Linked DNA regions of Homo sapiens. The protein of the gene in region 1 interacts with the protein of each later gene in a pairwise test. Each region holds a gene or a part of one and is shown on either strand. Other genes may lie near its edges.

Evidence for each region. Proteins that work in one complex are often made in the same cells at the same time.
Region 2: the proteins of NDUFV2 (region 1) and MAGEA2 interact in binary tests that used the Homo sapiens proteins (3 or more experiments, as listed by UniProt).

What each region holds. Positions count from the first base shown.
Region 1 is NC_000018.10:9,109,153-9,112,805, reverse strand, and holds part of NDUFV2 (NADH dehydrogenase [ubiquinone] flavoprotein 2, mitochondrial precursor), read right to left. Parts: intron 769-3,653; exon of another isoform or gene 1-768.
Region 2 is NC_000023.11:152,751,686-152,755,438, reverse strand, and holds the start of MAGEA2 (melanoma-associated antigen 2), read left to right. Parts: upstream 1-1,596; 5' UTR 1,597-1,651; exon of another isoform or gene 1,652-1,897; intron 1,898-2,047; 5' UTR 2,048-2,126; intron 2,127-2,925; 5' UTR 2,926-3,045; intron 3,046-3,616; exon of another isoform or gene 3,617-3,714; intron 3,715-3,753. UniProt on the Homo sapiens protein: Reduces p53/TP53 transactivation function through recruitment of HDAC3 to p53/TP53 transcription sites. Also represses p73/TP73 activity. Proposed to enhance ubiquitin ligase activity of RING-type zinc finger-containing E3 ubiquitin-protein ligases.

The DNA.
Region 1 (3,653 bases):
AAACTTTTAAAAACCAATGAAGGGCCGGGTACAGTGGCTCATGCCTGTAATCCCAGCACTTTGGGAGGCCAAGGCAAGCGTATCACTTGAGGTCAGGAGTTCAAGACCAGCCTGGCCAACGTGGTGAAACTGCATCTCTACCAAAAAATACAAAAATTGGCCGGGTGTGGTGGCGCACACCTGTAGTCCCAGCTACTCAGGAGGCTGAGGTGGGAGAATCGCCTGAACCTGGGAGGTGAAGGTTGCAGTGAGCTGAGATCACACCACTGCACTCCAGTCTGGGTGACAAAGTGAGACCCTGTCTCAAAACAAAAACAAACAAAAAAACCCAATGAAGTCTTTAGTTCTTTCCCTGTCTTACTATCACCACTATTTCAGACATTATTTCATGTCTGTGCATTACTGTAAGTCTTCTGGCTGATCCCTTTTTCTCAATCCAAAACATCCTGTCTAATATCACCAAACTAATTTTAAAAGTACCATCCTTCTGGCCAGGCGCAGTGGCTCACGTCTGTAAACCCAGCACTTTGGGAGGCCAAGGTGGGCAGATCACAAAGTCAGGAGTTCGAGATCAGCCTGGCCAATATGGTGAAACCCCATCTCTACTAAAAATACAAAAATTCACCGCGTGTGGTGGCGCACACCTGTAGTCCCAGCTACTTGGGAGGCTGAGACAGGAGAATTGCTTGAACCCAGGAGGTGGAGGTTGCAGTGAGCTGAGATCGAGCCACTGCATTCCTGCCTGGGCGACAGAGCGAGATTCTCTATCAAAAAAAAAAAAAAAAAAACCCTTCTGATGCTGAGTGTGGTGTAAAAGATGACCAACACCAAACACGTTCTAGTATATGAAATGTCAATTTCATCATTTCTAATAAACACATTTTCCACATTCTAGCACCTCTGAAGGTGGGATGTATCACTGTTATCTAATATTCCATAAATATCCTATGTATGGAGAGACAATATAGCAAAATGGCTAAAAGCTCAGCTCTAGAGCCTGTTTCCTCATTTATAAAAACAGAAAAATAACGGCATGTACTTCATAGGGTTCTTGAGAGCATTAAAAGATGTACTTCAGGCCGGGCACAGTAGCTCATGCCTGTAATCCCATCACTTTAGGAGGCTGAGGCGGACGGATCACCTGAGGTCATGAGTTCGAGACCAGCCTAGCCAACATGATGAGACCCCATCCCTACTAAAAATACAAAAATTAGCTGGGCGTGGTGGCACGTGCCTGTAATCCCAGCTAACCAGGAGGCTGAGGCAGGAGAATCGCTTGAACTCAGGATGCAGAGGTTGCAGTGAGCCCAGCTCGTGCCACAGCACTCCAGCCTGGGCAACAGAGTGAGACTCTGTCTCGGGGGGAAAAAAAAAAGATGTACTTCATGTAAAGTGCTTAATATTCTGCTTGGCAGATGGTAAGTACTGTATTAGTGTTGGCTATCATTAGCTATTATTATTAGAAGTACTATGTGTCAGGCACTAAGCTTTTTACACATTATTTAATTCTTAAAGTTTCCTGCAAGGTGGGTATTATTCCCAGAAATTTAAATGAGTTATGAAAACTTCTCAAGGTTAGGTCACATCACTAATTATTGGCAGAAATTATGTTAGATCCTAGGGCCAGATGATTACAAAGGCCATGACCTTATTATTAGCCACCTGACTGTTTGATGACATCAAAGCTTTAAAAGAACATAGTAGGTCTAAGAAACCAAGGAGTTTAAGGAAGAAAATCAGGCCTCCATATATACAGGCAGGCAGATAAGAAATGAAAAGCCCTGCCTCCTTGGCTTACAATGCTCCTGTTAAGAGAGAAAGATGCAAGTTATTTAATCTTTTTTTAATCCTTGCCACCCTTCTCTTCTATTCCTGCAAAAAACCTGAACGTATACACACTAGCATAACATTTGAGCAACTTAATTTCAAAGTCCGAAGTCGACCTCTTCAAAGTTGTATAAGAAGGGCTGAGATAATGTTTATAAAATAAAAGAAGCTGGCCAGACACGGTGGCTCACACCCATAATCCCAGAACTTTGGAAAGCCAAGCCCCATAGATCGCTTGAAGCCAGGGGTTTGATATCAGCGTGGGCAACATGGTGAAACCCTGTCTCTACAAAAAATACAAAAGTTAGCCAGGCATGGTGGCACATGCCTGTAGTCCCAGCCACTTGAGAGGCTGAGGTGGGAGCATCGCTTGCGCCCAAGAGGTTGAGGTTGCAGCGAGCCATGATCATGCACTGCACCCAAGCCTGGGAGACAGAGTGAGACCCTGTCTCAAAAAAGTAGTAAGTAAACAAACAATAAAGAAAGAAACAAACTAAATAGTGAAGATAAACTGATAAATCTTAGCTCTCGGTTTTTTTCAACTGGCATAAACTGTTATTCATCCCTATCAAGTTACAGGTGGCCTGAAAATGGCTTTGAAAATTGTTTTTTTGGTGTGTTTAAAGAATATCACCTATTTTACATTCATTGTAATGTCTACGTCAGACACTTTCAATAAAGGAATAAAACATTAAAAGTTCTCATTAACATCTTTACACTACTTACTGGGCCATTTCAATTTTGTTTCACTTTGAAATAAAGAGGCATTCCAGGACCAGGCTTAAAACTGGAAAAAACAACCTAGCTAGGCTGGAATGATTCAAAGAATAAGCTGAGTTCCCACCCACCCCCTTCTTTGAGTACAGTCTAGTCTTTTCTCTAGAATCTAGCTTCTCATTAGACTCTGAAATGTCTATACCTCAAGAAATTCCAATTGAGTCCAATTGAAAATCCAAGTAACTTCCTTTTTTTAAGAAGAAAAGCATGCAACCAAGTAACTTTTTTAAGTAAATAAGATCATAACCTAATATACAGCTCAAAATTAACAGTGGGTTTGAATTCTAGCTTATTTTTTTTTCAGTGTTTCAGAAGGAAAAGAAAAGATTTAAGCAGGCCAAAACAGTGACTGCCTTTTCGTTGGAGTCAAGTAAACTTGAGTGCCTCTGTGTTAAGCTCTTCTACATACTTTTTTTCGTCGATTCCTAAAAAATCTGTAGTGAGTCATTATTTCCATTTTACATTTAGAGAAACTCAGGCTCAAAGACAGTAACTTGCCCCATACCGCACAATTAGTGACAGACCTGGATTTTGAGCCCAGGCTCTTTCAATCTAAGGGCCCTGTGCTCTTTCTACCAGCCTTTCCCTTTTACTGTCACTGGCAATACCAATAGCTCAAAATGACAAAAATTAAAGTTTTATATTCTCCCCAATAGGATTCCTTAATTGTCTTTTCATGGGCTCTACTCTTTTTCTGAATTTCTTCTGTTGTTCAAACAATACTACCATCCAACGAAGCTCACTTTTCAGTTCTATCAGACATTTGCATTATAAATGCATCCAGCTAAGAGAAGTTAATAAGAGACTAAGAAGCTGTAAGACAAAACTGACAGAAGCAGTAATCTAATTAGTCAGAAAGACAAGACTAAGGTCAGGCAATTCAAAAACCCTTCTTTTTTCCTTTATTAGAGGCCAACTAAGGCAAGGAATATACCTTTTAGATGATCCCTAATATTTACAGATTAAATCCACCAAGATATCTATTTGCCTGTGCAAGAGTCACAGTGCACACATGAAACATCTCTAGTGAATCCAAAGTGGTCTGAGGT
Region 2 (3,753 bases), on another chromosome or scaffold:
AGACAATATGCCACTTGCAATAGCAACAAAATCCAAGAATTACCTGAATAGAAGCCTAATAAAAATGTATAAGTTGTTTATAGAGGCAACTACCGAAGTATACTGACATATTCAGGAAAAAAGAGCTTGAAATCCATAGAGGAGTATAACATATTCATTCACGGGGAACACAACAGTGTAAAAATGTAAACTCAGCTTAAATTATTTACAATTTAGTGCCTTACCTGTAGCCGCCGACATTACAAGCAAATTTGGGCTGCTGTGCTCTGCTTCCCAAATCAACCCTGTAAATTTATAGAATGGAAACAGAAAGTAAAACACCAGTATCAGCAAGAAAATCTACACAACAAAACAGGGAAAGCCCAGAGTGAGACTGGAGACTGTGTTGAGCTGGTACTTGTGTGTGACACTTGCAGTGTCTGTTGGAGGGGGTTAGCGGCAGAGATGTTGGGGAGGTTTGTAGCCTGCCTAGACGGCAGATGAAAGAATGGGTAGAATAAAAGTTTTGAATTTTCCACTTCACTTCATTGCACAATCTGAGGCAGCCCCTGAAAACACGATGCCAAGAGCCCTAGGTAATAGCAGTGTCCACCAGGAAAATTGGGTTTGTTAAGGCAGCATGGCTCCAGAGTTCTGCTAATAACAACCTGAAACCAACAGAGTGGGAGAGGAATTATGTTTTTTAAAAAAATTCTTTCAACAGAACACAAAGACTGGAATGGAAGTAGACTAGGATATCAGAGTGAATCATGCATACTAAGGGTAGGTGTTAGTTCATAGAAATAAATATATATATTGCTACCTACATATATACTTAGAAGATATGTAAACCGTATTTCTTCAATTCAGAGAATAAATCATTTAGGACCAAAGGTTTGCCAAGTGTAGCTCTGGCTGGGGAGGAGCCCCCGTGGGAAGGTGTGCGTCTTCTCCCAGAGGTCACTATCATCGCGGGAGCTCCTGCCCTGCAGGGAGCACCTGGCCTGGCACCCGCAGCCATTCTCTACAAGGGGTGCAGATGCGCAGATGCGCAGATGCTCAGAGGTGACAGAAACAGAGCATCTCCCACCCATTCCTTCATCAAACAGCCAGGAGTGAGGAAGAGGACCCTCCTGAGTGAGGACTGAGGATCCACCCTCACCCACATAGTGGGACCACAGAATCCAGCTCAGCCCCTCTTGTCAGCCCTGGTACACACTGGCAATGATCTCACCCCGAGCACACCCCTCCCCCCAATGCCACTTCGGGCCGACTCAGAGTCAGAGACTTGGTCTGAGGGGAGCAAACACAATCGGCAGAGGATGGCGGTCCAGGCTCAGTCTGGCATCCAAGTCAGGACCTTGAGGGATGACCAAAGGCCCCTCCCACCCCCAACTCCCCCGACCCCACCAGGATCTACAGCCTCAGGATCCCCGTCCCAATCCCTACCCCTACACCAACACCATCTTCATGCTTACCCCCACCCCCCCATCCAGATCCCCATCCGGGCAGAATCCGGTTCCACCCTTGCCGTGAACCCAGGGAAGTCACGGGCCCGGATGTGACGCCACTGACTTGCGCATTGGAGGTCAGAGGACAGCGAGATTCTCGCCCTGAGCAACGGCCTGACGTCGGCGGAGGGAAGCAGGCGCAGGCTCCGTGAGGAGGCAAGGTAAGACGCCGAGGGAGGACTGAGGCGGGCCTCACCCCAGACAGAGGGCCCCCAATAATCCAGCGCTGCCTCTGCTGCCGGGCCTGGACCACCCTGCAGGGGAAGACTTCTCAGGCTGAGTCGCCACCACCTCACCCCGCCACCCCCCGCCGCTTTAACCGCAGGGAACTCTGGCGTAAGAGCTTTGTGTGACCAGGGCAGGGCTGGTTAGAAGTGCTCAGGGCCCAGACTCAGCCAGGAATCAAGGTCAGGACCCCAAGAGGGGACTGAGGGCAACCCACCCCCTACCCTCACTACCAATCCCATCCCCCAACACCAACCCCACCCCCATCCCTCAAACACCAACCCCACCCCCAAACCCCATTCCCATCTCCTCCCCCACCACCATCCTGGCAGAATCCGGGCTTTGCCCCTGCAATCAACCCACGGAAGCTCCGGGAATGGCGGCCAAGCACGCGGATCCTGACGTTCACATGTACGGCTAAGGGAGGGAAGGGGTTGGGTCTCGTGAGTATGGCCTTTGGGATGCAGAGGAAGGGCCCAGGCCCTCCTGGAAGACAGTGGAGTCCTTAGGGGACCCAGCATGCCAGGACAGGGGGCCCACTGTACCCCTGTCTCAAACTGAGCCACCTTTTCATTCAGCCGCGGGAATCCTAGGGATGCAGACCCACTTCAGCAGGGGGTTGGGGCCCAGCCCTGCGAGGAGTCAAGGGGAGGAAGAAGAGGGAGGACTGAGGGGACCTTGGAGTCCAGATCAGTGGCAACCTTGGGCTGGGGGATCCTGGGCACAGTGGCCGAATGTGCCCCGTGCTCATTGCACCTTCAGGGTGACAGAGAGTTGAGGGCTGTGGTCTGAGGGCTGGGACTTCAGGTCAGCAGAGGGAGGAATCCCAGGATCTGCCGGACCCAAGGTGTGCCCCCTTCATGAGGACTGGGGATACCCCCGGCCCAGAAAGAAGGGATGCCACAGAGTCTGGCCGTCCCTTGTTCTTAGCTCTGGGGGAACCTGATCAGGGATGGCCCTAAGTGACAATCTCATTTGTACCACAGGCAGGAGGTTGGGGAACCCTCAGGGAGATAAGGTGTTGGTGTAAAGAGGAGCTGTCTGCTCATTTCAGGGGGTTGGGGGTTGAGAAAGGGCAGTCCCTGGCAGGAGTAAAGATGAGTAACCCACAGGAGGCCATCATAACGTTCACCCTAGAACCAAAGGGGTCAGCCCTGGACAACGCACGTGGGGGTAACAGGATGTGGCCCCTCCTCACTTCTGTTTCCAGATCTCAGGGAGTTGATGACCTTGTTTTCAGAAGGTGACTCAGGTCAACACAGGGGCCCCCATCTGGTCGACAGATGCAGTGGTTCTAGGATCTGCCAAGCATCCAGGTGGAGAGCCTGAGGTAGGATTGAGGGTACTCCTGGGCCAGAATGCAGACAGGGGGCCCCATAGAAATCTGCCCTGCCCCTGCGGTTACTTCAGAGACCCTGGGCAGGGCTGTCAGCTGAAGTCCCTCCATTATCCTGGGATCTTTGATGTCAGGGAAGGGGAGGCCTTGGTCTGAAGGGGCTGGAGTCAGGTCAGTAGAGGGAGGGTCTCAGGCCCTGCCAGGAGTGGACGTGAGGACCAAGCGGACTCGTCACCCAGGACACCTGGACTCCAATGAATTTGGACATCTCTCGTTGTCCTTCGCGGGAGGACCTGGTCACGTATGGCCAGATGTGGGTCCCCTCATCTCCTTCTGTACCATATCAGGGATGTGAGTTCTTGACATGAGAGATTCTCAAGCCAGCAAAAGGGTGGGATTAGGCCCTACAAGGAGAAAGGTGAGGGCCCTGAGTGAGCACAGAGGGGACCCTCCACCCAAGTAGAGTGGGGACCTCACGGAGTCTGGCCAACCCTGCTGAGACTTCTGGGAATCCGTGGCTGTGCTTGCAGTCTGCACACTGAAGGCCCGTGCATTCCTCTCCCAGGAATCAGGAGCTCCAGGAACCAGGCAGTGAGGCCTTGGTCTGAGTCAGTGTCCTCAGGTCACAGAGCAGAGGGGACGCAGACAGTGCCAACACTGAAGGTTTGCCTGGAATGCACACCAAGGGCCCCACCCGCCCAG